Regions from separate parts of the Homo sapiens genome. Here all the other regions are linked to region 1. The links come from fine-mapping of genetic effects on gene expression. A gene starts in region 1. Each other region holds a variant in brackets. All regions are shown on one strand. Distances are between the middles of the regions. Region 1 holds the start of GEN1 (GEN1 Holliday junction 5' flap endonuclease). Region 2 overlaps SMC6 (structural maintenance of chromosomes 6). Region 3 overlaps VSNL1 (visinin like 1). Region 4 holds the start of LOC105373449 (a long non-coding RNA gene). Region 5 overlaps MSGN1 (mesogenin 1). Region 6 overlaps LINC01866 (long intergenic non-protein coding RNA 1866). Region 7 has its middle 230 kb from the start of LINC01866.

Region 1 (4,080 bases):
CTGTATTATTTCTTCCAACTTGCATAAGAAGAACTGAAACTTAAAGAGGTGGTACCAACCTGCTCAGAGTCACACAATTCTGGCTTTTTGTGATATAAATACACGCTTTTAGGCAATATACTAGTGGCCTCCAAACGTTTTGTACTTGCACCCATTAAGCAAAAGAAATTTGAAATACATGTTCCAACATAAAATTAATACCCTATGTTTCACGTAGAAATCAAATGAAATAAATCTAAATAGAAGTTCTAATATGTTCCCTCTCTACCCACACACCCATGGAACAAACTGCATGCCACTGTATATACTATTGTACATGTTAAAAGATCACACTGCAACCATATAAAAGTCAGGAGATTTGGGTTTTTCTTTTTTCCTTTGAATATATATTACTGAGAAGTTTGCCTTTAAAACACTGGCTTTTAATCTACTACTCGTGACATATGCAGAGTAATAAGCGCTCACAAAACTTCTGTCTTGAGGGCTCAAACACCAAATGATTGCTCTAAGAATTTTCACAGTATTACCTCAAACCCTATTGGTTCTACAACCTTTCTCTACCCTAGAGTCCTGTTTTCCGCAATTCCCAATTGGGATTCTTCTCCGGTTCATTTCTGTAAGAAATGAGGGCAGAGAAATGCCATCAGTAAACCTTTGAACACATGTTAATTTTTCTAGGTAATACAATTTGCATTTTCGTAAAACTGGGCTTTAATGACAAATCCGATTTCAGTGATCTTTGCATACACCCTTTAAACACACCAGTTGCCGCCTGCGAGATATCATCAGACTCATGCTAAGAGCCACTCCCTACCCCAGCTTTCCCCAGACCTCTCCCCGCTTTACAGTTATTCGCCACAGCCCGGGAGAGTCTGGGGACGGCCGCCTGGGAGGGGACGGCCGCCTGGGAGGGGACGGCCCGGAGCAGACGCCAGGTTTCCCGCGGCTCAGGAGACCGGTGCCGCCTCGGAGAGCGCGCGAAGGTGCCGCCGGCCGCCCGACCCGCCCGAGGAACGGACATCTCCCGCCCGGGCCCGCAAGGACGACCATGAACACCGCCGCAGCTCAGCTGACCCTGCCTCTCCCGGGTGGCTGGGGGTCGCCAGCCAAGGGGGCAGCGGGCGGAGGATGAACCCCGGAGCAAGGGAAAGCGACAGCGCGCGCCTTCACCCTACCGCCAACAAGTCGAAGTCTCCCAAAGGAACCTGATCGGCGGGGCTGCCGTGGTACGACCGGCCGCTAAGGCCACCCTGCGGGCGTCTCGACCTCGGCTGACCGCCGCTGGCCCCCTGGGAACCGCGTGCCGGCCGCAGGAGAAGGTAGATTCCCGGGAGCCCCGGCGCCCACCGCGGTACTAACCGCGCCTGCGCCCCGCCCTCCCTCCCTTCGGGCTCCGCCCGCGCCTGCGCAGTTGCGGGGTTTCGCGCCGCCGGAGTCTGAGAGGCCGGAAGTGCCCCTTAGCGGGTGGGGGAAGCTGGTAGGCACGGGCGGCTCCGCAGTGACCGGACTCGGGGGAGGTGAGTGATTTGCCTAAGTAAAAGGGAAAGATAATTGAGCGCCCCCGGCAGCTGGTCTACGCATGCGTCCGCTAGGCCGGCTGGGAGCCGGCAAGGGAAAGCCGAGCGGGCCCCATTGGGGGAAAGGGGTCAGTCACTTCCCGGAAGAGGCGGGGCCGCGCGGGCCCGGCGCTGGATTCGAAACGCTTCCTGGTGCTCCTGGGCCTGGCGGTTGAGCCCGGGGAGCTAGTCTTTGCTTGGGTAAAGAAAGAGGACTTTCCTTTTTTTTTTTCCTTTTGAGAAAATTCAGAAATTTGGAGGCACAGTAGTTAGGATTCAGGCCAAACTGGTAAATGACGAAGGGGCTTCTTCCAGAGCCAAGGAGGAAGGGTTGTCCGGGTAAGTCCCGCGGGACGTGGAGAGACGGCGCCGCCCGGGTCCTCCCACTGATTCCTTTGACCATCTGGCTTACGGACGAGCTCTTTGTTCGCTGCTCCTCCGAAAACGCCTTCAATGACTCCCTTTGAATAAAGTAGGAAGTCCGAACCGAGCCGCCAGGCCGCGACTTGGCCCCTGTTTTCCACTCGCGAGGGCCCTGCGTCACCCCGCCTCGGGAAAGCTGCGCGTTCTCCGGCCGCTTGCGCTTGGCCGAAGCTGCTGGGTCCCGCTGTGCTTCCCCCGGGCATGCGATGGGGATAATTCCCACGCCTCGCTCAAAGCCATCCCGGGAGAGCCCTCCCTGGTCCCCATAGGCACAGTTGGGTGTTCCCTTTTCCGTGTTAACCTTGTATTTCGGATATAGTTCTGTTATAGTAATTACTTTAAGGTATTGTAGTTATTTACAATCAGTCTTTCCCCCACGGTAACCTAGAGTGTAAACCCCCTAAATAAACGTCAGAAGTAATGAAGTCTTAACTTCCTTGGCTTAGGTTTCAGCGCCCTTCTCAACCCCACACTCCCGCTTCAGTCTTTACACAACCCTTCCCATGAATATGCTGACCTAACAAGTAACCTACTTTTCATACTCCAAAATCTTCTCTTCTGTGTGGGGAAAATAATGCATTGACTGCCACCTCACTCCACCTCCAAATAAATTGATGTTGAAATTCTGGCCTCCGGTAATGGAATTCTTTACATCAAAGTCACTTTTTATTTCTAAAAGTAATCACATATATATTATATTCCTACTGTGGCCCTTGCCATGGATCAACGAAAAATATGACATAGTCAAAATAGACCAAAACATCTGGCCTTGTTGTAACCAATGGGAAACACGGTTGGGAGGTCCCTACTTACATGTCACTTGCTTCAGGAACCGTTCCTTGATTCCTAAGTGGGGGACCTTTTTTCCTAAATACAACTATAGCTTGCTTTCTTACCTCTTAAGCCCTTTTTATCTGCAGTCTCACTTACCCTACTAAGGTCTTTAAATGCAGGGCTTGATCTTCCATTATTGTATCTCCAGCACCTATAAAGCTTTCCTGTTAAATAGTAGACATTTAATAAGTATTTATTGATAAACGTGAAGTATGCCTCAACGTTTAGGCTAAATTCATATGAAAATAAAATTGAAAAAATAATTTTAAAGAACAGCATTAGTTACTGAGATTATGTGGTAAATCCCTTAAAATATAATCTTGCATTGAAATAGTTTTCACCATTTACCAGTCTTTATATGAATATATACTCATCTAAATGGAAATTGGGAAATTTAAGCATTTTCTGCTTTTCCGAAGTAAATTTTCTAATGTTTTTCTTAAAGCTGAACTAAATTGCAAAACTTGCTTTAATAAAGTGTGTATTTTTGCATCAGTTAAGCCCCTGACCTCTTTATGTTCTTTAAATTTGATTCATTAGTGAAATTAACAAGGTTCTGTGTTTTTCTCACCTCATTCAGTTTTATAATTAACCAATAAAAGCTTATTAGCTTTTAAGGAAGTTTTAGGAACTTAAATTGATTTATGGGCACCATATGGTTACATCAAAGGACTTGTTTTTGTTTTAACTGGAAGTGGATTCTTAAGTCCTTTAAGATGGAAATTTATGTTCTTTCTATTATACCAAGCAATACTTTCTGAAATAGAGTGATTTTTTTTTATTCCATGCTACCAGTTGGTCATGCAATTCAAATATTAAATACTAGATTACAGATATTAGAATCTTGTAATGCATCTGGTTTAATACCTGTCATTTTGTAGAACGGTTAAATGTCTTCCCAAGGTCATACACCTAATCAGTGGTATATTCAAAACCCAAATCCTAGGCTTCCTATCTGAAGTCCATTGCTTATGAAGTGGTTTGCTATGTGTTCTGACTTTGTTGATTCAAATAAGTAAGCTAAATCAATTTAAGCCATTAATAGGTTTATAAAGTTATTTGCTATGTGTTGTTCTTACATCATTGATTCATGTAAGTAGACTTGTGTGACAGCTAATTCTTAAAAAATTATGAAGATGTTAGACTTCTTTTGATATATATATGTTGATTGTATGAACAGATTGACATCAATATACTTATTCATTATAAAAGATTTGAGTGGGAACTCACCAAATCCCACACCAAAAAAATTTAAAATTTTACCATA
Region 2 (4,000 bases), 63 kb before region 1:
GACGTGGAGAACCGTCAACATTGGAACTGGACTACAGGTATCAATGTTAAGTTTCCTGTACTTTATAACAGTATTGTGGTTATGTAAGATAATACTCTTATTCTTAGGGAATATATTGAAGTACTAAGAGGTAAAGGGTCATGATTTATGAAACCTACTTTTGAATGGTACAGAAAAAAAAGTAAAGTAATGTGAGTGTATGTATATGTGTGCATGTATACATGCTAAATATATATGGCCTTTCAATAATGTTTGAAGTTTTATGATTTTTGATAGAGCTGTCCCTCAGTATCTGCAAAGGAACTAGATCCAGGGCCCCCTGGGCAGATACCAAAATCCATGAATCCCTTTTATAAATGTCATAGTATTTGCATATAACCTATATACATCTTCCTGTATACTTTAAATCATCTCTAGAGATTACTTATAATACCTAAGACAATGTAAATGCTATGTAAATAGTTGTTACACTGTATTCTGTATTTTTTAAAAAATTTGTATTAGTTTTTACTATTGTGTTCTTTTTTTGTTGTTTTTGAGTTTTTTCCCCCAGTCTTTTCAATCTGTGGTTGGTTGAACCTGTGGATATGGAATCAGTGGATACAGAGAGCCAGCTGTATTTACAATAATGGATGCATGTCTATGGCAATTGGATCTAGGCAATTTCTCTATTCAATACATTATTAATTCCAAATGGGAAAATCCACTAGGATTAAAATTTCGTTTGAGCTCCAGTTGCTTCTTAAATCATTACTGCAATTATTTTACTTTATAACTAATAGAGAAATGTAATATGTGAGTGACTAGCAGACCATGGAATTAAAATTGATTTTGCACAGAAAAATAAATAGCTTTTGCTCAGGTTACTAAATTCACTGAATAAATTAACAATGAAAATCAGAAAGAACATCATAAAGCCACAATAACTAAAACAGTATGGTTTTTAAACAACTGCCTGTGGCCAGGTGTGGTGGCTCATGCCTGTAATCCCAGCACTTTGGGAGGCTGAGGCAGGTGATCACTTGAGGTGAGGAGTTCGAGACCTGCCTGGTCAACATGGCGAAACTCCAGCTCTACTAAAAGTACAAAAAATTAGCTGCACGTGGTGGTGCACGCCTGTAATCCCAGCTACTCAGGAGACTGAGGCAGGATAATTGCTTGAACCCAGGAGGCAGAGGTTGCAGTGAGCCAAGATTGCACCACTGCACTCCAGCCTGCAGAGGAAGACTCCATTTCAAAAAATCAAACAAACAAAAAAACCAAAAAAACAAAAAAAAACTCCCTGTGAATATATTATCACAAAATTAATTTAATTTTTAAAATCTGCATAATGTACCGAATAGACAAAAAAGTACATGAAAAGGTCATAGAAAAATAAATATAAATAAATGAAAAGATGTTCAACTTCACTCAATGTAAGAGAAACGTACATTAAAATTACGGTTAATTCTTTTTCTTGGGAAATCTATCAGAAAAAAGAATCTAAGAAGGCCACACGCTGTTTAGGCTGTAGGAAAACAGGCACTCTAACACATCGCTAATGGGAATGCAAAATTGGTACAATCCCTATAAAGGGAAATCTGACCATATGGAGTTTATACTACTAAAAAAAAAACGCTGAGTACATATAAAATAATGCGCATTCACTTATTGTGTTCCACCATTTGCAACAACAAAAGATTAGATTAAAACGCAGCTATCCATGAAAAGGAGATTATTAAATACAGTGAAATTATAAAAGACAATGAGGAAATATCTATGTACCAACATAAGAAGATCTTCAAGATATATCACTAAACCAAAACAGCAACTATTCACAATAGCCAAGATATGTAATCAACCCACATGTCCATTAATGAATGAAGAGAGAAAAATGTGTATACACACACACACACACACACACACACACCAGAATACTATTCAGCTACAAAAAAGCTATAAAAAAGCTGAATAGTATTCTGGTGTGTGTGTGTGTGTGTGTCTCTGTGTGTGTGTGTCTGTGTGTGTGTGTGTGTATACACATTTTTCTTTCTTCATTCATTAATGGACATGTGGGTTGATTACATATCTTGGCTATTGTGAATAGTTGCCGTTTTGAACCAACGACAAAAAACACATGACTCTCAATAGACGCAGAAAAGGCCTTTGACAAAATTCAACAACATTTCATGCTAAAAACTCTCAATAAATTAGGTATTGATGGGACGTATCTCAAAATAATAAGAGCTATCTATGACAAACCCACAGCCAATATCATACTGAATGGGCAAAAACTGGAAGCATTCCCTTTGAAAACTGGCACAAGACAGGGATGCCCTCTCTCACCACTCCTATTCCACATAGTGTTGGAAGTTCTGGCCAGGGCAATCAGGCAGGAGAAGGAAATAAAGGGTATTCAATTAGGAAAAGAGGAAGTCAAATTGTCCGTTTGCAGATGACATGATTGT[A/G]TATCTAGAAAACCCCATCCTCTCAGCCCAAAATCTCCTTAAGCTGATAGGCAACTTCAGCAAAGTCTCAGGATACAAAATCAATATGCAAAAATCACAAGCATTCTTATACACCAGTAACAGAGAGACAAATCATGAGTGAACTCCCATTCACAATTGCTTCAAAGAGAATAAAATACCTAGGAATCCAACTTACAAGGGACGTGAAGGACCTCTTCAAGGAGAACCACAAACCACTGCTCAATGAAATAAAAGAGGATACAAACAAATAGAAGAACATTCCATGCTCATGGGTAGGAAGAATCAATATCGTGAAAATGGCCACACTGCCCAAGGTAATTTATAGATTCACTGCCATCCCCATCAAGCTACCAATGACTTTCTTCACAGAATTGGAAAAAGCTACTTTAAAGTTCATATGGAACCAAAAAAGAGCCCGCGTTGCCAAGTCAATCCTAAGCCAAAAGAACAAAGCTGGAGGCATCATGCTACCTGACTTCAAACTATACTACAAGGCTACAGTAACCAAAACAGCATGGTACTGGTACCAAAACAGAGATATAGACCAATGGAACAGAATAGAGCCCTCAGAAATAATGCCGCATATCTACAACTATCTGATTTTTGACAAACCTCACGAAAACAAGAAATGGGCGAAGGATTCCCTATTTAATAAATGGTGCTGGGAAAACTGGCTAGCCATATGTAGAAAGCTGAAACTGGATCCCTTCCTTATACCTTACACAAAAATTAATTCAAGATGGATTAAAGACTTACATGTTAGACCTAAAACCATAAAAACCCTAGAGGAAACCCTAGGCAAACCATTCAGGACATAGGCATGGGCAAGGACTTCATGTCTAAAACACCAAAAGCAATGGCAACAAAAGCCAAAATTCACAAATGGGATCTAATTAAACTAAAGAGCTTCTGCACAGCAAAAGAAACTACCATCAGAGTGAACAGGCAACCTACAGAATGGGAGAACGTTTTTGCAATCTACTCATCTGACAAAGGGCTAATATCCAGAATCTACAATGAACTCAAACAAATTTACAAGAAAAAAACAAACAACCCCATCAACAAGTGGGCGAAGGATATGAACAGACACTTCTCAAAAGAAGACATTTATGCAGCCAAAAGACGCATGAAAAAATGCTCATCATCACTGGCCATCAGAGAAATGCAAATCAAAACCACAATGAGACACCATCTCACACCAGTTAGAATGGCGATCATTAACAAGTCAGGAAACATCAGGTGCTGGAGAGGATGTAGAGAAATAGGAACACTTTTACACTGTTGATGGGGACTGTAAACTAGTTCAACCACTGTGGAAGTCAGTGTGGCGATTGCTAAGGGATCTAGAAATACCATTTGACCCAGCCATCCCATTACTGGGTGTATACTCAAAGGATTATAAAACATGCTGCTATAAAGACACATGCACATGTATGTTTATTGCGGCACTATTCACAATAGCAAAGACCTGGAACCAACCCAAATGTCCATCAATGATAGACTGGAAAATGTGGCACACATACACCATGGAA
Region 3 (4,080 bases), 120 kb before region 1:
TTTTACTTGTAGCTTGGATTTCGGGCTTTCAACTGTCTTTGCCTTGTCTTCTAGTAATTAAGTATGTACCTTGGAGGTAGGGTTTCACCATGGACCCACCTCATCTGCCTAGGCATTTGGCTGCCTCCTGCCACTGTCACTGGAATTTTAGCCCAGAGTGCCCTCTTGAGTCATTCCCTCAGGCTCAATGCCCTTACTCCAAAGCTGCAGGGCTTGCAGCTCTGTGAGAAAGGGAGGTGGCAGTTCACACTGCAGAAGCCTCATCAGTTGAGAGACATAAATAAGCAAGTGGATGTTCCTTGTTCTTGAATAGGAAGACTCAGTGCTGCAAAGATGCCAGCTCTCCCTAATGAATGTAGCAGCTCAAAGCTATCTCAATCAAAATCTCATCACAGTTTGCTTTGTTTCATTGTTTTGCCACTTGATCTAATTATTTTAAAGTTCCTCTGGAAGAGTATATTTTCAATAATAAAAGAAGAAGAGAGAAGATGATAACTTCCACATATTAAAATATTTTATAAGCTTGCAATAATTAAGATACTATGCCGTTAACAGAGGAATAAATTGACAACCAAATAAAGAAATAATAACTAGTTCAAACATATCAAACATACACCCGCATATATGGGGCAAAACGGCATTTTATTTTTTTTTAATTTATTTTTTTCAAGACAGAGCCTTGCTCTGTTGCCCAGGCTGGAGTGCAGTGGCACGATCTTGGCTCACTGCAACCTCCGCCTCCTGGGTTCAAGCAATTCTCCTGCCTCAGCCTCCTGAGTAGCTGGGATTATAGGCACACAACACCACGCCTGGCTAATTTTTGTATTCTTAGTAGAAACGGAGTTTCACCATGTTGGCCAGGCTGATCTCGAACTCTTGACCTCGTGATCTGCCCGACTTGGCCTCCCAAAGTGCTGGGATTACAGGCGTGAGCCACTGTGCGCAGCCCAAAATGGCATTTTAAATCAGAAAGGAAAAAATGGACTTTTCATTAAATCTTATAACAATTGTCTAGCCATTATATTCACAAATTAAATGTGAATATTCAAAGGTAAATGAGAGAGAGAGGAAAGTATTAGAAGAAAACATAGGGAAATATTCTGAATCTCGGTGTGGGGATGGACTTTCAAAATGACACCAAAACCAAACACCATTTAGGAAAATTCTGATGCCTTGATCATATAAAAATCTAAACTTTTGCACAGGAAAAAAAAAGCAACTTGTATATGATTTTTCCAAAGGATATAAAAAAGATAGTGAACCTCACTAGAAATCAGAGAAATGCAAAAATGGTTGGATAATATTGTATCATTGTTCTGGTATCAGAGGCAATGTAAAGGGTGCATCACACATTAGCACTCTGGTTAACTATTGGATGGTGGTTTGACAATATGGGTCACAAGTAAGATTTGTGTATTCCTTCACCCATAGTCCATGTTTAGGAGATAACCAGATCAATTTTATAAATAAAACACTTTAAGGTATTAATAACAGTGAAGACGTTTTAAACCATTGTCAGAGTCTCTAGATTTGATTAAATAAATTATAGAACATTCATATAATGGAATATTAATCAGCCACTAAAAAGGGGGTCATATATTTAAAGCCAGTGACCTAAAAGGTTTTCATGACGTAGCACCAAATGAATAAATCTAGAGTTATAAATATACATGCGTGTATGTGTAAACATGAAGAATGCAGAACCATACACAGGTACATACTTAATGACTAGAATGAAGGTAAGGTTTGTTGTTGTTGTTGTTGTTGTTTTCCGAGATGTAGTCTCGCTCTGTCACTGAGGCTGGAGTGCAGTGGCATGATCTCAGCTCTCTACAGCCTCCGCCTCCCGGGTTCAAGTAATTCTCCTTCCTCAGCCTCCC[A/G]CGTAGCTGGGACTACAGGCCCATGCCACCATGCCTGGCTAATTTTTGTATTTTTAGTAGAGACGGTTTTTCACCATGTTGGCCAGGCTGGTCTCGAACTCCTCACCTTAACTGTTCCACCCACAGGGATTACAGGCGTGAGCCACCACACCTGGCCAGGTAAGGTTTTTTGTATGATTCACTGCTGTATCCCCAGTGTGAGAAACTTTGTCAGTGTTCAATAAATACACATTGAATCAATGAACTCCTAGAACAATGGTCATTGTTTTTTTTTGTTTTTGTTTTTGATTTTGTTTGTTTGTTTGCTTTGAGATGGAGTCTTGCTGTCGCCCAGGCTGGAGTGCAGTGGCGCAATCTCAGCTCAGTGCAACCTCTGCCTCCCGGGTTCAAGTGATTCTCCTGACTCAGCCTCCCAAGTAGCTGGGATTACAGGCATGCATCACCACACCCAGCTAATTTTTGTATTTTTAGTAGAGATGGAGTTTCACCATGTTGGTTAGGCTGGTTTCGAACTTCTGACCTCGTGATCTGCCCACCTTGGCCTCCAAAAGTGCTGGGATTACAGGCATGAGCCACTGTGCCTGGCCAAACAATGATCACTCTTAATAATAACTCTGAGTGGTAGGTTTTCGGCTAATTATTCCTTTATTTGTGTTTTAAATTTTTTCTTCGTAAATGTGTACTATCTATAGAGTAAGAAAAAAGCATTGCTATTTTCATTAAAGTGCCTTAAAAAATAGACACAGCATATTTCCTTCAGTTATACATTGAATAAATCACCCTTTGGAGAAGAACTATGAAATGCAGAAATAAGCATTAAAAATACTTCTTGGATGATTTGGTATTAAAAGTAAGAAAAGCACCGGGTGCAGTGACTCATGCCTATAATTCTAGCCCTTTGGGAAGCCAAGGCAGGCAGATCACTTGAAGCTGGGAGTTCAAGACCACTCTGACCAATATGGTGAAACCCTGTTTCTTAGTCTGTTCTCATGATGTTAATAAAGACATACCTGAGGCTGGGTAATTTACAAATGAAAGAGGTTTAATTGACTCACAGTGCCACATGGCTAAGGAGGTCTCACAATCGTGGCTGAAGGCGAATGAGGAGCAAAGTCATGTCTTACATGGCATCAGGTGAGAGAGCTTGTACAGGGGAACTCCCCTTTATAAAACCATCAGATCTCGTGAGGCTTATTCACTATCATGAGAACAGTGTGGGAATGACCCTCCCACTGGGTCCCTCCCAGGACACATAGGAATTATGGGAGCTACAATTCAAGATGAGATCTGGGTGGAGACACAGCCAAACCATATCACCCCATCTTTACTAAAAATACAAAAAAAAAAAAAAAAAAAAAAAAGCTGGGCATGGTGGTGAGTGCCTGTAATCCTAGCTACTCTGGAGGCTGAGGCACAAGAATTGCTTGAACCTGAGAGGCAGAGGTTGCAGGGAGCCGAGATTACACCACTGCACTCCAGCCTGGGTGACAGAGTGAGACTCTGTCTCAGAAAGAAAAAAAAAAAATTAAAAGTAAGAGCCGAATGTGATGGATCTAGCAGAGGCCACCTTCACCTATCGAGTTAGTCAGGAAATACTTATTGAATATCCATTGTGTTCCAGGCACTAAGAATACAGACATGAGTCAGGAGTGACCCTTCCCTGGAGGATGTCAGAGCAGAGTTGGGGGCAGGCATAAAACAGCTCGTGACAAGACAAGGCCCAAGTGACCCTGTGCATCGATACAGGGTATTGTCATTGCTCAGAGGGGAAGCCCTTAACTCAGCTTAGGCAGGGGAGAGAGTTGGAATATGGGGTGGAAAGGAAAGAGCAGGCTGAGAAGACAAGGGGCTCAGAGAAGTGCCCCTTGAGCTGAGTGATAAAGGACTAACAGGAGCTAGCAAGAAGTGAAGGGGCAAGAGAAAAGCATGGGCAAAGCATGCAAAAGCACTCTGGAAAGATTTCCCATGGATCGGCACCAGCTTGGAGTGTCTGAGGAGGTGAGGGTGGTGGAGAAATGAAGCTGGAGAGGTTTGCAGGACCCAAGTCGAAAAGGGCCTTGTGGGACTGGACTAAGCAGAGTGGCTTTCATCCTGGAGTGTGGGGGAGAAGGTGGAGGAGGGCATCAAAGAGCGTGCAGTAGAGAGGTTAAGGCCTAGACTTGCAGATGCGCTCACTCATTGTAACAGCAGTGTGCAGGCG
Region 4 (4,080 bases), 44 kb after region 1:
ACTGAGTATATACCCAAAGGATTATAAATCATGCTGCTATAAAGACACATGCACACGTATGTTTATTGTGGCACTATTCACAATAGCAAAGACTTGGAACCAACCCAAATGTCCATCAATGATAGACTGGATTAAGAAAATGTGGCACATGTACACCATGGAATACTATGCAGCCATTTAACAAAAAAAGGATGAGTTCATGTCCTTTGTAGGGACATGGATGAAGCTGGAAACCATCATTCTCAGCAAACTATCGCAAGGACAAAAAACCAAACACTGCATGTTCTCACTCATAGGTGGGAATTGAACAGTGAGAACACTTGGACACAGGAAGGGGAACATCACACACCGGGGCCTGTCGTGGGGTGGGGGAAAGGGGGAGGGATAGCATTAGGAGATATACCTAATGTAAATCATGAGTTAATGGGTGCAGCACACCAACATGGCACGTGTATACATATGTAACAAACCTGCACGTTGTGCACATGTACCCTAGAACTTAAAGTATAATAAAAAAAGAAATATAATGCCAACCATATATCTTTACTTTTCTGTTAGCCACACTTTAAAAAAAAAATAAACAGGTGAAATTAATTTCATACTATATTCGATTTAACACGATATTTCAAAATGTTATTTCAACATGTAATCAATACAAAAATCATGAGTGAGATATTTTATGTTTTTGTTTTGTTGTCTTTATTTCTTTTGAAATTTTTTTTCTTTTTATGTAGTTTTAAAATCTTTTTATGATATTTTACATTTTTTATTTCTACTAAGTTTTTGAGATCTAGTGTGTATTATACACTCGCATCACATCTCAGCCTTGAGACTTCATTTCACATGTTAAATCACCACACGTGGCCAGTGGATGCCATGTGGAAGAGCACAGTACTGGCTTTTGAGGTCATGTCTGTGACTTGGCTCTGGGTCCTCAGACTGAGCACAGTCCCTTCCAAAGAGTCTCCATTGGTGTTTTCGTTTGGCTAGCTATTTTAAAGCTCAGGATCTTAGGATATAAAAGTAGGGAAGAGATACATCAGTTTTAAGGAGGGTGAAGCTGTCTGGGCATGGTGGCTCATGCCTGTAATCCCAGCACTTTGGGAGGCTGAGGAGGATGGATCACCTGAGGTCAGGAGTTCGAGACCAGCCTGGCCAACATGGTGAAAGCCTGTCTCTATTAAAAATACAAAAATTAGCCGGGCGGTGGTGGCACATGCCTGTAGTCCCAACTACTCAGGAGGCTGAGACACAAGAACTGCTTGAACCTGGGAGACGGAGGTTGCAGTGAGCCGAGACCATGCCACTGCACTACAGCCTGGGTGATAGAGCGAGACTCTGTCTCAAAATAATAATAATAAAAAAATGGAGGGCAAAGCCATCCAGAGCAGGCTTCCTATGAGAGGAGTTGAGTGGGAAGATGTTCAGCACAGGACACTGCGGGGAGCAGAAAATGCCAATCAGGCCAAAGAGGCAGGTGCCTGCTACCTCCTTCATCCTGCATGGCAGGACTGGATGCTGTAGGCACAGGTAATGGTGGCTCTGAGCCACATGTTCTGCCTGCTTTATGCAGGTTGCCTTGAGCCACCTGGAGAATACTGGCTGCCAAAGGATTTGATTACGATGTAATGTGATCACTTAAATCTCTAAAAAACAGCTGCAGCCAGAATGTATTTTCAGCAAAGATGTCTTCTGAAAACAAGTTGTGCCATTTCACACTCTGGCCGAGGGTTCCCAGGAGAGTTCATTGATTAGCTTACCTCATCATTCAACCATAATTGGTTCAATTAGGAAAAAGGACGATCACTTTCGCCAACACAGAATTGCCTCCAAGA[T/C]AGTGCCCACAGATGTAAGTTTCTCTGAGGTAGCTTTTCGGGAAACAGACATCTCCTGAGAAAACCTGAGTTTCAGCCCTGTTTCCTAGATCCTCTGAGGTCAAATAATCAGCATACAGAGCTGCAAGGACTAGAGTTTGGAACCCCCCAAGCTGGTTGTCACCAGCAGTGTAATGCTTTCCACCTCAACACCTAAGGAGGACCAAACCCTGGGTTGGACCATATCCATTCCCAGATGAAGCCCCAGGATATGGTGGCAGGAGCCCAGCCTTTGCAGAGGAACACTCTGTTTCCCAAATGCCAGCCCACCAATTCATTTGAAACGTTCATTATGCTACAACTCTTAACTTGGTTTATGCATGGCATTGTAGCAACCAGTTAAGGCATTTGGACCACCAGCGTGTGACCTGCAGCAAGTTATCTTACCTCTTTAAGCCTCAGGTTCTTCCACTGTAAAACATGGGTAACGTCAGTCCCTACCTCCTCGTGCTGTCCATTAAGCTGTGAGATAAAGTACTAATCAAAATGCATGGAAAGTACTCCACGTAACTTCGTAACTATTTCATAACTATAAGTTCATATCATAAAACAGGATAATTTAAATCAGAAAAGTGAGTTTAAAAAAGTAGAGAAAGAAAGATTCTCAAGCAAGTGGGTGCTGAATACACACACATACAGAGCCAGTGCTGGGCAGCTGAGGGTGATCAGCAGAAGGGCAGGTCCTCCTTCCTGTCCCTGCTTCTAGTCTAATTGAGGGGACTTTCCCATAGGAGGAAATCCTGTGTTGGGCTGTGCAGCACCAACTCTAAGCACAACAGAGGCCATCAAGACCACGAAGTGGTGACTGCTGGGAGTCAGAGTAGATCAGAAAAAACAATTAGGATTTGGAAAGGCAGTAGGATGGCACCACTCACCCTAGGCAGAAAACATACACCAGCCGAGACACCACAATGGGATGAGCAGCCTGTCTTCCAAGGAGGTGGAGAAGGCAAAGTCCAGACTGGAGGAAAGGGAAAGGTGGAGAAGGACCAGGAAGCTTTAGTGACAAGATGAATAACAAACATATCAATGAGAAAACAGGCCAAGGAGTCATCAGCAGGCACAGTCCCTACAGCATGAGAACAAAATGCTAAGCTCCATGAGGTACGTATTGTAGGGAAGGGAGGAGAGGAGAAGGGAGGGGAGGGGAGTGAGGGCATTGTCTCTGATCCTTTCGTCTGTCCTTAGCACAGACACTGCTAGTGTTGCCCAGCTCTGCCAGGAATACGCTTCTGGAGAGCCTATCACAAATGCTCTCACAAATTATTGAAAGGGCCGTGTAGCCCCCCAAAAGTCTTCATTTTTGAGAATGCCCTGGAAAGGCGAGTTGAGACACTTACCTTCTCTCTGCTTGGCTTTCTTACTTGTACCCACCAAGCCTAGCCTTCCTATAAGAAATCATTAGATTTTATCTTTAGAACATTTTGAGCTATGAGAAGAAAGAACATCGTGTCCATACATACAGGCACAGTCATTATCACAGGATTCCGTTTTCTCTGTTCTGTTTGAATCCATCTCCTGGCAACAGCTGTCCAGCTCCCTAAAGCCAGCAGCAGCTGCAATAATGAGCCAACCATTTATCTGAGTGTGTGGATGACAGTCACAGCTCCACGTGCAGCTGTTCTTTAAAGTCCACTGTCTTGTCCCTCCCTCGGGTCTAGACAACAAAGACAGCCATTCATTAAACTCCTCTGTTTCGAGTTTTAGGGAACCCCCTATGCCTTTTACCAGTGGTACGGTCTTTTAATGCTGCCACTTGCTGGTAGTTTTACCATAAGCAAGCACAAAAAACCTCCCTCTTTGAACTTTGGTTTTCTGAACTCTCCAGAGATAACAACCATTACCCACCTCATGAGACTGTTGTGATGCTCCAAAGATGTAATCGATATGATAATCTTTTACAAACTATATGACAGCATTCTTGTACTATTAATTATTAAGGTCCTTGTTTCTATGTTTAAAGTGAAAAAATTGCTAGAAAATATAGGACACTACAGTAAGCTTCTGTGGGCATCCAGATAATTGGTCACTGAGAACTGGAGGAGGCAGAGTGTTTCTGGAGAAAACAGTTGGCCCTGGCTTAGCGGGAGTGGTAGAATCTGAGAGGTCAAGGGAGAGGAAGGGACAGTTGAGTGAGGGACACAAGCCAGGCAAAGGCCAAGAAAAGAAAATGTGGTATATGGACAGTGTAGCATTATCCTGGAAT
Region 5 (4,080 bases), 65 kb after region 1:
AGACAGATTATTTTGCCCTTCTCTGTCTGTTCAAGGTATTTTAAAGGGTCAGTGATTTTAAATGCATTTTTTTCAATAATGTAAAAGTGTTAATCTCTTGCCATTTTGGCGTTGAGACCTTTTCTTCTGTTGCTAACAAAACCTGTATTTTGTATAGGATCCAGTGTGATATCTGGATTCTTATTTAGAAAGATTTGTGCCAAGTAAAGGGCTTTAGTGCTCCTGTTTTCATTTCGTGTGTATATGTGTGTGTGTTTGTGTTTGACTGAAATCATGCTGTTGCAGGGACCAAAATCACTTAAATGCGGAAGGCACTGGTGTCATGATAAATGGAAAGTCACAGGCAGACAGGCTAAGTTAAGACAGTGAAGATTCCAAAAGCCAGAGCCTCCTCTTCACAGGCAAACAGCTTGTGTGACAGGGAAGGAGGGTACGGGGAGGAGGAGGAGGAGACAGCACCTCAGGGTGGACCTGAAGCAAGGCTGGGTGGGCAGGGTCTCCCTGTCCTTTGTTCTGGGCCTGGTATGAACAGGACCTTATTTAGTCCTTTCACTTACCCGTTTGTCAAATAAAAAGACAGTCTCAGAAAAAAAAAAAAAAAAAAGTGATTCGAATCCCATAAAGAATAACTAAAAGGGTCAGTGTTAGAACTGAACAATCTCTGACCCCTCCAAAGGCATTTACTTCTTCATCTTCCCCTCCTATCCATCTGCCTCCCCCCAACTCCAGATCCCCCACATGCACCCATCACACACACACCCACTCTTCATGGTGCCTTGTCTTAGGGTGGGTATCTGTAGCACCCACAGTTTAGCTCATTTGAATGGCACAGGACATTGAAAAGGGGGCTTTGAATTAAGGAGGTTCTGAAAACTAGTGAGATTTTTTAAGGCTGAATTTTTCTCCCTATGGTTATTAACCATTAGTATTTGTTGTACATGTCTCCTATCATCTTTTTTCTATTGGTGATTTTGTTTTCTTTTTAGTGACATAAATTACAAAAGCAGTAGATGTGTTCTCTACTTCTCCATTTTTTTTTTGCTGATACAAACATATACAAATATATATAACTTGTCCATTTTTTTTGCTGATACAAACGTATACAAATAAATGTAAGCATACATAAATGTTAAAGAAAAAAACCTGAAAATTCCTTTTTTAACTTAACAATATACAGTACAAGTTCTTCCAAGTTAGCACAAATAAATCTGTGGTGTAAATACCATTATTACCTTCATTTTATAGATGGGGAAACAGATGCATGACTTGCTGAGTCACACATGCAAAAAGTATAACAGAAAACAGAGGTTCTAGCAAGGTTCCATAGAACAGATTCTGCAAAATTTCTTAAGCGAGTCACCTTTTCAATGATTTTTAAGTTATTTTCAGGTTTTTTATGACAAAAATGCTATAACAAAGGTTATAGACAACTAGCTTTATCTACTGATGTGTTCATTAGCTTGAAAAATTCCCAGAAATGGGATTATTGGATCAGAGTATGCACATTTTAAATTTTAATAAATAATGTTATGTCACTTCTATAAAAGTTTGTAGTTATGTATACTCCTCCTAGTATTATGTGACAGAACCAGTTGCCCCACATTTTCATTGGATACTATCAATTTTATGAATTTTTAATGGATAAAAATTGTTCATTGTTGTGTTAATTTTAACTTCCCTGTCTGTCATTTGAGGTGGAGCGTCTTTATTTTATGTGACCATTGTTCATTTTGGTTCCTCTTCTAAAACTTGCTAGTTTATAAATTTGCCATTTTTCTATTGCTTTATCTTCTTGTTAATTTGAGAGAGTTCTTTGTATATTATGTACTGGAATATTTCCTTCCAATCTTTTTATATTGTATTCTTTTTTCTTTTTTATTGATGCATAATATTTATTCATATTTATAGGGTACATTTGATATTTTGTTACATGCATAGAATGTGTAATGGTGTAATGATCTAGTCAGGGTATTTAGGTATTCATCACCTTGAATATTTATCATTTCAGGACTATTTCAAGTCCTTGCTTCTAGCTATTTTGAAATATACAATTCATTGTTGTTAATTATAGTCACGCTACTCTGCTATCTAACACTAGAATTTATTTATCTATCTAACTCTATGCTTATATCCATTAACCAACCTCTCTTTA[T/A]CCCCTACCCACCCCTCCCGCCACCCACACTCCCTTCCCAGCCTCTGTTTCCTATCATTCTACTCTCTTTTTCCTTTCTTTTTTTCACTCTGTTGCCCAGGCTGAAGTGCAGTGGTGCGATGATAGCTCACTGCAGCCTCAAATTCCTGGGCTTAAGCGATCCTCTTGCCTCAGCCTCCTGAGTAGCTGGAACTATAGGTATGTGCCCCCATGCCTGGCTGATTTTTGTATTTTTTGTAGAGCATGTTGCCCAGGCTATCATTCTACTCTCTACCTCCATAAGATCAAGTTTTTTTAGCTCTCACATATGAGTGAGAACGTGCAATATTTATCCTTCTGTGCCTGGCTTATTTTACTTAACATATTGACCTCCAGCATATTTGTTTTGATGATGTCTTTTTTTCTTTTTTTCTGAGACGGAGTTTCACTCTTGGTGCCCAGTCTGGAGTGCAATGGCGTGATCTTGGCTCACTGCAACCTCCGCTTCCCAGGTTCAAGCAATTCTTCTGCCTCAGCCTCCCAAGTAGCTGGGATTACAGGGATGTGCCATCACGCCCAACTAATTTTGTATTTTTAGTAGAGATGGTTTCATCCTGTTGGTCAGGCTGGTCTCCAACTCCTGACCTCAGGCGATCTGCCCACCTTGGCTTCCCAAAGTGCTGGGATTACAGGCGTGAGCCACTGCGCCCGGTGATGATGTCTTATGATCTTGATTATGGCATCATTTTTTTTGAAGCTTTTCATTTTTATATGATCAAATTTGGTTTTTGTTTCATGGCTTATGTGTTTTTCTCCCTTGCTTAATTTTCCCCAGTTCCAAGGTTGTCCAAGTGTTCTCTTGATGTTTTGTAAATACTCTTACAGTTTTATTATTTATTTATGGGTCTTCAAAATACCTTTAATTCATTTTTGTCTATAGTGTGTGGAAGGAATCTAATTTTATTTCTGTGTAGCTTGTCATCAAGGATTGGTGGGTGGTGGTGAGGCACAGTTGCTAAGATGTCATTCTATGTATATAAACTTTCATCAGCTTCTCATATATTTGGTGTTTTAGAGAAAAAGCTAGAAAACATTGAACAATATGAAGACTTTCTCCAAGGAACTTTATCACATACATGTACAGGTGTTCATGTGAGAGCGTATGTGTGTGCACATATATACGTATTTGTTCACCTATGTATGTGTTCATGCATGTGTATGTGTGGGTTGTGTTTTTTGTGTTGGAGAAGGAGGAGGGTATTGGGGTAAGGGAGAACCAGCTGTTCTAAAAATCAACTTTCGGTTCAAATGCTATTTTCCTCACCGTTTTTAAATGAGTGGGACTCAAATGCTCTTGGCTTTGATTTTTCAAGCTCAAGTATTAACAATGGTTTATAAATAGCTTGGGCAATTTTGGTTGTCCTGGGCACCAAATACTGTGAATGAATTAGGAGGTATTTCCTGTCCTCAGTTTCAAAATATCCCTTAATGTCACAGACTCACCTATTAGCTGGGTATGCCCTCAGGACTTCTAAGGGACCCACTAGAGGGTAGGTGTCTGCAAAACCAGGAGAAGATGGCAGCTTCCTGGGAGGGGTCCTGTGGCCCAGAGCCTTGTCTCACCCACACCCCCTTCCTAGCCTCTGTTATCTATCATTCTACTCTCTTTTCCCACTGAGTCCTTCCCAGATTGCCAGGCTGCAACCACAACTGCTGTACACGATAGGCAGCTGTATATGAGTGTTTGACTCCTGCCAGTCCCCAGTGGAGTCGCCTCCCTTATCGGGAGGATAGCTGGAATAGGTCCCTCAATCCTCCAGGGAGTGTTTCAAAGCATCTGGCCTGGGCAAAGCTCAAGATTAGGAATAAGTTATTTCTGGTGCTTGGACAGGGAAAGGGTTGCAGAACCACAGTTCACATATGCCTACTCTGGTCAGTACTTCTACATT
Region 6 (4,080 bases), 780 kb before region 1:
CTTGAAAAAAAAAAATACCAAGTTCACTAGGCTTTAAATTGTTAGTGCAAGTCTTAGTCATAAAAAGCTTCTAAAATCCTTATAAAATAATTAATAAAGTATAATTTAATTCTATACATTGCACAATTACCAAAATAAAAAACCCTTGGATTTATAGATTCATTACATTTTACAAATGAAACCTAGAAGTTCTGTGAAAAGACTGGGTTCCTGAGACTTTGAATGGGGTATCTAGAAAAACCTGAATGAAGCTGAGAATACTGAATCCCCACATCTTTTTTTTTTTTTTTTTTTTTTGAGATGGAGTCTCACCCTGTCACTCAGGCTGGAGTGCAATGGCATGATCTCAGCTCACTGCGACCTTCGCCTCCCGGGATCAAGCAATTCTCCTGCCTCAGCCTCCTGAATAGCTGGGATTACAGGTGTGCGCCACCAAGCCCAGGTAATTTTTTATATCTTTAGTAGAGACGGGGTTTCACCATGTTGGCCAGGCTGGCCTCAAACTCCTGACCTTGTGATCCGCCCAACCTCAGCCTCCACTTTGTAATCTCAAAATGCTGGGATTACAGGTGTGAGCCACCACGCCCTGCCAAATCCCCACATCTTTCTTAAGCTCTCTTACCAGCAGATGCAGCCCGTTCTTCCATAACAGAATAGACCAGTCTTCTCTTGCTTGTAATAAGGTCACCTAAGCCAATGGCTTTGTGAGGAGGGTTTTACTTTTCTCAAGATCTACACCCATCCCTCCTGACATCTAAAGGTTGAAATAGAGTCGGATCTCAGCATACTCAAGGGGGATAAGGCACAGAGGCTGGCATAGAAGAAGGCTCATACTCCTAAAGACATGCAAGATTTTTATATTTGTATTGGCAGAAAACTGAGTGATATACATGGGAATTCTAAGGATTTTAAACTAAGAGGAATATATCATTGAATTGGGTTGAATTTATTGACATCGGTGCATGAACCTGAGATTCTGGGTGTGATATGTTGGCTTGTGTGCTAATAATAATATGTAGTCTCCCAGGAGCCTTTAAAGGGACACATCCCTGCTGACACCTTGATTTTAACCCAGTGAGACCCATTTTGGATTTTTGTTTTCCAGAACTGTAAGAGAAATTTCTGTTGTTGTTAGCCACTATATTTGGATTAGTTTGTTAAAGTGGCAATAGGAGACCAGTACACTCTTTTAGCCTAGACAGCCTCTCTCCCTCTTCCTACAACACAACCAAACTCAAACTGAAGTCACCAGATCACCTGCCCTTAGAGCTTGGGCCATGCAACATCCTCCAGAATGGAGTTAGGCAGTTCTGCAAGGCTTAGCTGTGGAATGAAGTGAGACCGCCCCATCTCATTAGCACAGGAGAAACTGGAAACTAGAAAAAAAAGAAAAGAAAAAAAAAACTTTGGGAACACAGGAATACACTTTTAGATCTAGTTTTTTTTAACTGAAAAAAATTTTTTAGAATGTATAATATGTTTATATCATTCAAAAATTTCAAAAAACACAAAAGGGAAAACAGCTTTACCCTTATCCTCATCCATCTACTTTTCTCTCTTGGATCACCTACTATTATCAAAGGAACAGATAATACTTGGAGAGAGGAGCTTCATATATTGGGTCGTGGGAAGTCTCTCTGATAAGGTAGGATCTGAGCAGAGATGTGAATTAAGGGAGTGATGGTTGCATGCAGGCATCTGGGGGAAGAGTGCCACCTTTTGCAGAAGCATCATTTAGTGACCCATGAGAATGATAAAGTTAAAAACAACAAACCAAGAAAAAGTTATAATTTTCTAAGGAGTCAAAACATTGTATTGTGGAAGAAGTATATTCTCTTCATGCTCAGAAGATGAAGCATTACTCATGCAGATTACACTATGGTATACTGGAAGAAAAATAAAAATCCAAATGATTATTGTTTTTTAATGGTGAAGCATGTTTTAGGATAAAACCTTGCTGTAACACTGCTGAAGAGATTCTAAAGTGGGTTGAAACAGCCCACTGACCCTTGACCTCCCACAGATCAGAGCTCACTTCCCATACTGGCTGCAAGGTTAGAACAGATGAGAATTTGATGACATATGAATATACAGTGG[TAG/T]AGTTTGTAAGATGCAAGAAGGGATTCAACACTTAACTCTTTTGGCTACAACTGGATCACTGCTAAACTATTAATCCCATTAGTCACTGGATTAATTGTTTTACATTCTCTGAAGACTCTTACTTTAACTTACAGTAACAAACAAGCCCACCAATAAAAGTGAAAAGATCTGGGCACACTGGCTCACGCCTATAATCCCAGCACTTTAGGAGGCTGAAGCGGGAGTGTCACTTGAGGACAGGAGTTCAAGACCAGCCTGGCCAACACAGTGAAACCCAGTCTTTACGAAAAATACAAAAATTAGTAGGCTGTGGTGGCGGGCACCTGTAATACCGGCTACTCAGGAGGCTGAGGCAGGAGAATCGCTTGAATCTGGGAGGCAGAGGTTGCAGTGAGCAGAGATTGCGCCACTGCACTCCAGCCTGAGTAATGAAGCGAGGCTCTGTCTCAAAAACAAAGGAGAAGGAGAAGAAGAAGAAGAAAATTTTACTTAATTTCTATCCAAGGCCAGTATGTTTTCAGTCTAGTAAAGATGATAAATTTATATTGGAAAATAAGGTTGCTTCTACTCTGGTATGAAGGAGCCACCTCTAGTCCATTCCACTGTGTGGATTGATAAGCAGAGATGACCCAACTGGAAGACCAAAAGAATGAATTCCACAGTCATTTCTTTCTCACAGAGGACAGCTTTAGGTTCCCTCTGCAGAAGAGAAAGAAGGGGCCTTGGCCAACAGGTTGTTAAGAAATTTTAGCACCACAAGCAGACTCAGAATCAAAGGAAACATTCCAAGAGTTGAAAAAGACAATTCATTCAACTAAATAAATGGAATGGTTCCAAGACTGGAAAAATACCAGTGGTGCGGAAACAAAAGCTATAAATACTGCTCCTGGAAAGAGAACACTCAAGACTGTCATAGACATGGCAGGAAAAATGTTGAAAAACCAGAAAATTGGAGATGCTGCAGCTGCTTTGCAAGGGACAGTCTTGGCCACTGGAAATAGGGGAGGTGAGAGCAAGAGATAAGGGGAAAGGGTCAGGAGTTAGAGCCATAGGAGAGGAGAAATGTTTTCCTCTCACAACCGAGGCTGGCATCAGGAAAGGTGGTCCTACAGTTGTCATGACATCATGAGTTGGAACACAGAAATGACAAGGAACTTGCAATCCTTTCCTTCAATGCACAAAATGCCCAGGATAGTTGGCCCACCAGAAAAGTCTTTCTGGAATCTCAAGAGTCTGTATAGTAAACAACACTGGTGCAGTTTCCCTTTCCTGTTGAGAAAAAGCCTAAAAGTGGTTGGACATGGTGGCTCACACCTGTAATCTCAACACTTTGGGAGGCAGAGATGAGCAAATTGTTTAAGCCTAGGAGTTCAAGACTACCCTGGGCAACATAATGAAACCTTATTTCTATAAAAAATCAAAAAATAAGCCAGCCAGGTGTGGTGGTGCATGCCTGTAGTCCCAGCTACTCCGGAGTCTGAGAGGTAGGAAGATTGCTTGAGGCCAAGAGGTCAAGGCTGCAGTGAGCCATGATCATGGTACTGTACTCTAGCCTGGACAATAGAGCAAGACCCTGTCTCACAAAAAAAAAAAAAAAAAGCCTGAAAGCACAAAACTGTGGCCCCAGTTCTTTGTATGCTTCTACATGGAGAAGCTGGAGGCCCAGTAACATTGTACCATTCAAATATTACCCCTTGGCCAGGTGCAGTGGCTCACACTTGTAATCCTCGCACTTTGAGAGGCCGAGACAGGTGGATCACCTGAAGTCAACAATTCAAGACCAGCTTGGCCAACATGGTGAAACCTTGTCTCTATTAAAAATACAAAAATTAGCCAGGAATGGTGGTGGGCACCTATAATCCCAGCTACTCGGGAGGCTGAGGCAGGAGAACCACTTGAACCCAGGAGGTGGAGGTTGCAGTGAGCCGAGATCTCACCATTGCACTCCTGCCTGGGCAACATGAGCAAAAACTCCATCTC
Region 7 (4,080 bases), 560 kb before region 1:
TACTCTCTGGAGTGAGAATATATGCAATTTATGAGGCAATGCAACAAAAATGGGCATTTACTGGGTTTCGTCTCAAGTTCTTTATCACTAGAAATCTAATAAGCTTGTTTAGCTCAAAAATTTAAACAAAGTGACATAAATCTTTAGGGGGCTCATATAAAAATATCTGGGCAGCCCAAAGTGTGTTATATAAAAGTATATTTAATATTCTAATTTTATACTTTGAACGAATGCCTAATTCTTTGTAGACAATCTATGGAAAATAAAGCTAAACATTTCTTGGGCTGTTGAAGTTTTACCATGCAAAGCTATCTTTTCCTCCAGTATGTCATCCATAAAACTGCCTGACTTCCCTTCACTGCTAAGTATAGGGCTGCTCAGTGGTGCTGTATTGCCCTGTCCCTCTTCCTCTTTCTGAGTTCTGCCCCTCATGGTCAGTACATTCTCTGTACTCTGATCAGTACCTGCGCTCAACAGATATGGGAAAAGGTCTTAATTCTTCTTTTGGTTAGGAAAGCCAATCCTTGTCAGGGTCCAAAATGAAAGTAAATCCCGACTTGGACAGCAACATGACAGTTACTAAGAATATGACTTCCCAGGGCATTATTGTTTGATCATGCACGTCTAAGATCATGTGGGCTACATATCAACCAAGCAGAAATGTCAGCACTTTCTAAAGAAGAGAAAGCTGAGCTTCAGGTAACTAGCTTTGGATGTTTCCTCCTCAGATGCTCATCTGAATCATCGGTATCCAAGGGCAGGGATTAGTAGCATTAGGATAGCCGTCAGCTTTTTCCAACTTTGTCCTGCTCAGCTGGTTTAGAGCAACCCAGACACTCTAAGATGGGAAGAAGGGAACCCACTTAGGTAGAAATATCTTTGTTCAATGACAGGGATTATTTGAGGAAGGGTAGGTAGGTAAAAGAGTTGAATTTGCTCTCATGTCCACATAGTTAAAATCCTCTGTGACCTATTTTCTCAGGTTTCAATAATCCCAAAATATGGGCATTAATCATGAAAGTCTGAACTTAGCTTTCATGTAAATTTTTGGTTGTGAACATTTTCTGTCAGTAAGAATTGTTTTATCTATTATGCACTGCCAATTATAAGAGATGAGTGTCAGTCATCATCACTATCTACCATGGATCCACTGACAGCCAAAGCTATCAGACCAGTCCTTGCCTGACCTGTTTGAGTTGATGAGAGTGGCTATGAATTGAAACCCCATTACAGGGTGGTCTAAGTGCACTTGTCTCTAGTTCTCTGTAACACCACATCTGGCTTATGAGCAAAGGAAGATACCAGGTTTGTTTCCCCAACTTTTATAAAAGTTATAAAATAATATGTATAATATTTTGATATAACATCAAGAGAATAAAATCTTCAAAACTATCAGTCCCTACTAATTGCATTTTCTATAATATCTGATCATTAATGCTTCATACTTAATATGTACTCAGCAAAGAATTGTTAAATAAATGAATGAATGGATTGCAACTATGTCAAGATGGGCATGAAAATGACCAAAAGCTATCAAAGATTTTGAAAAAAGGGATACAATTATTGTGGTACAGAAGTGGGGTTCTGAGTGCTTTCATTTCCTGATTAAAAATGTCTTTCATATCATACCAATAATGTTTCAATAATAACCACAACTTAAATTGACATTTAATTCAGTTCATCAAGGATTGTCCACTGAAAATGTGCCTAGCCCCATGGGACAAACAAGAACATCTAAGCCGTGGTCATTGTCCTTGAAAACTACATTGTGTCCTGGAAGATAGAGCATAAGCGTGAAATGGAGAAGCTTCACACAGGTCAGGGATTAGCAGAATGCTCAAATGAGCAATATATAGAAGCACTGGAAACAAAAAGCTCTAGCTCATGCTCCAGGAAAATCCACAGAGCCTTAAACATTCAAAAGTGAAGCATGCATTTTGCCTACTGCAGCAATTAGAAGCTGGAGCTGAAATCGATGCAGCAGCCACTAGAGCAATCTGCAGCTCTGTGGCTGCTGTTACTTACAGCCATTGATTTTCTCTGGCTTTGGTGTTTGG[T/C]TCACCTCACCCTTACCACCTCAGATCCACTGTGGCTCCAAGGTGTAAGGCACAGGGTCATTGCTTCCTTGAAAATTACCCAAGGCTCATTATTGGGCTCTGAACCTACAAAGGCCACAGAAAAGGAAAAATCACATAAAGGCTTTCTGACAACTGCCAACTATTGCTAAAACGCCACTGCTCTTCCTGGCATATAACTCAGTCTTTCTTAGAACAATCAAACTGATTCGTACTTCCAATTGTGAAATGTAAAACTCTCCACATTTAAGGTGGCCTCAAATGACCTTCTAGATTCATCTTTTAACACACTACCCTCTCTCCCAAAGCCCCTTCTCATAAATTCATTTATATCAGCCTACTTGACATTTTCTGAATATACTCTCAACTCATCAGCCCATCGAATCTGCTCAAGCCTTTCTTACTCCCTACACATCCTTTAAGACCCTGCGTAAGAGTCCCCACATTATCCATCCAAACTAATTCCCTTTTCTCCCCTCCCCAATCTATTGTACTTTCATTACAAAATATTAACTATAATCCTAGGTACATCTCACTTAATTGACTATTAATTTCCAGAAGGTCACTCACAGTTTATCCAACACAGTATCCTGTGTTATGTAGTGCACACCCAGACAGAAATAAGTCAAGCTAATGTAGCATTGTACAAAAAGATGTTTATCTGAGCACCAGAATTGTGGCACTAATAGGTGTGGTTCACAAGGTCAAGGTGTTTACTTATAACCATACCTGGAAGGAAGTCTTTAGCTAGATTTGGAGAAGATGATAAAAAGACTGATTGAGAGTAATAGAAGCTACATTCTGAAATGTATAGGAATGAGACCCATGAAGAGCGCGTTACATGATTACTGACAATGGACTATGAAGGATAAAAATGTGGTTCTGAACTCAATCTCTAATGCTTCATCAAGAGGAAAATTGGTCTGGATTGGGACATCTGCTTTCTTGTTTCAGAGTGCTTCTATTACTGAGCACATCAGTAATTCTTAGTTTTTGAATACCAACTCTGTGACTGGCTGGAGAAAGCTGCAGGGCTGCATATGATTCTCTAGATTGTGTCCCTCATATAGTATCAGAGGATTTTTGATAAAATCCAATTAACTGATACTGCCTGGTCTCTGCAGACCAGTGAGAAGTTAAAGGGATAGAGCACAACACCAAGAACACGGTTCCCTTTCTCAGAGCAGCAGTAGCAGAAGCAGCCAGCAAAGGCAGCCTCAGGGCAGCTGAAGGAGGAGGCTGAAGAAAGAGAAAAGGATTTCTGAGCATCTGAGATGTACCATGTAGAACTCTCAGAAATCACTGTAAAACACTCTAGGGAGCTTAAAGCTTGGCGAATTTATTTTACCTTGTGATATAATTTGTGTTGTACACATATTAAAAACAAAGCTCAGAGCAGGTAATCAAATTGCCAAATATAAGATGTGGTTCGGTTACTTTAATGGAACAAGCATTAAAAAAATACTTACTATGCGTCAGGCACCATACTTGATAAATCCTGGTGATTTTAGATCTGGAACCCAATAATTCTCTCACAAATCCAGGATTCCATAACCGTGTCAAGATGACTTTAAAATTCAAATAATGAAAGGCATTGAACTTGATCCCTGAGGTTCCTTTCCTCTCTGTATTAAAAGGATATAATGCACTTTTCCTTGGGCAAGGTTGAGCGGATGCTTGAGAGGAGACTAATGAGGTCTGGGAGCCGCTCCAGGTACTTGAAAAAAAACATGGAAGTTTTTTGGTCTAAGCAAGAAAGCATACTGACTGTATGCAGTCAAGTTCAGGTCAAAACTTTATTGAGCTTCTGATCTATTTTCACATTTTGCTAGGAATTCAGATGCAAAACAAGTAATGCCCCTCATGTTCAAGGGTATTTCCCTTTCAGTCAAATGGGGGGAGACACAAGCAATAATTCCAATATGACATGAAAATATTATGATAGTGTTAAGTACAGGATGCCTTCAGAGAGCAGAAAATTACCCAGAAAATCTGGATAATCAGG

Evidence for each region.
Region 2: its variant is fine-mapped to the expression of GEN1 in monocytes after Pam3CSK4 (Quach 2016, PIP 0.95).
Region 3: its variant is fine-mapped to the expression of GEN1 in lung (TOPMed, PIP above 0.99). The same link has a PIP of 0.9 or more in whole blood.
Region 4: its variant is fine-mapped to the expression of GEN1 in lung (GTEx, PIP 0.96).
Region 5: its variant is fine-mapped to the expression of GEN1 in whole blood (TOPMed, PIP 0.95).
Region 6: its variant is fine-mapped to the expression of GEN1 in ovary (GTEx, PIP 0.96).
Region 7: its variant is fine-mapped to the expression of GEN1 in whole blood (INTERVAL, PIP above 0.99).

What each region holds. Positions count from the first base shown.
Region 1 is chr2:17,752,451-17,756,530 of GRCh38, forward strand. It overlaps GEN1 (GEN1 Holliday junction 5' flap endonuclease), which reads left to right and starts at 1,688. Exons shown (of 14, transcript NM_001130009.3): 1 at 1,688-1,895. It overlaps SMC6 (structural maintenance of chromosomes 6), which reads right to left and starts at 1,360. Exons shown (of 28, transcript NM_001142286.2): 1 at 1,176-1,360; 2 at 528-614. RefSeq lists silencers at 836-1,195, 1,336-1,475.
Region 2 is chr2:17,689,353-17,693,352 of GRCh38, forward strand. All of the region lies in intron 23 of SMC6 (structural maintenance of chromosomes 6), which reads right to left. Among named protein-coding and RNA genes, the nearest start is that of SMC6, 62 kb to the right of the region's middle. The variant A/G (reference allele first, on the strand shown) is at 2,448.
Region 3 is chr2:17,630,132-17,634,211 of GRCh38, forward strand. The region is part of intron 2 of VSNL1 (visinin like 1); the gene reads left to right. The region is part of intron 1 of LOC124908054 (a long non-coding RNA gene); the gene reads right to left. Among named protein-coding and RNA genes, the nearest start is that of VSNL1, 91 kb to the left of the region's middle. The variant A/G (reference allele first, on the strand shown) is at 1,881.
Region 4 is chr2:17,796,890-17,800,969 of GRCh38, forward strand. It overlaps LOC105373449 (a long non-coding RNA gene), which reads right to left and starts at 3,425. Exons shown (of 4, transcript XR_939762.3): 1 at 3,215-3,425; 2 at 2,750-2,871; 3 at 2,262-2,336. The variant T/C (reference allele first, on the strand shown) is at 1,836.
Region 5 is chr2:17,817,358-17,821,437 of GRCh38, forward strand. MSGN1 (mesogenin 1) reads left to right here. Exons shown (of 1, transcript NM_001105569.3): 1 at 1-441. Among named protein-coding and RNA genes, the nearest start is that of MSGN1, 2.9 kb to the left of the region's middle. The variant T/A (reference allele first, on the strand shown) is at 2,153.
Region 6 is chr2:16,975,524-16,979,603 of GRCh38, forward strand. It overlaps LINC01866 (long intergenic non-protein coding RNA 1866), which reads left to right. Exons shown (of 5, transcript XR_001739184.2): 5 at 1-252. Among named protein-coding and RNA genes, the nearest start is that of LINC01866, 11 kb to the left of the region's middle. The variant TAG/T (reference allele first, on the strand shown) is at 2,098.
Region 7 is chr2:17,196,175-17,200,254 of GRCh38, forward strand. No RefSeq gene overlaps it. Among named protein-coding and RNA genes, the nearest start is that of LINC01866, 230 kb to the left of the region's middle. The variant T/C (reference allele first, on the strand shown) is at 2,058.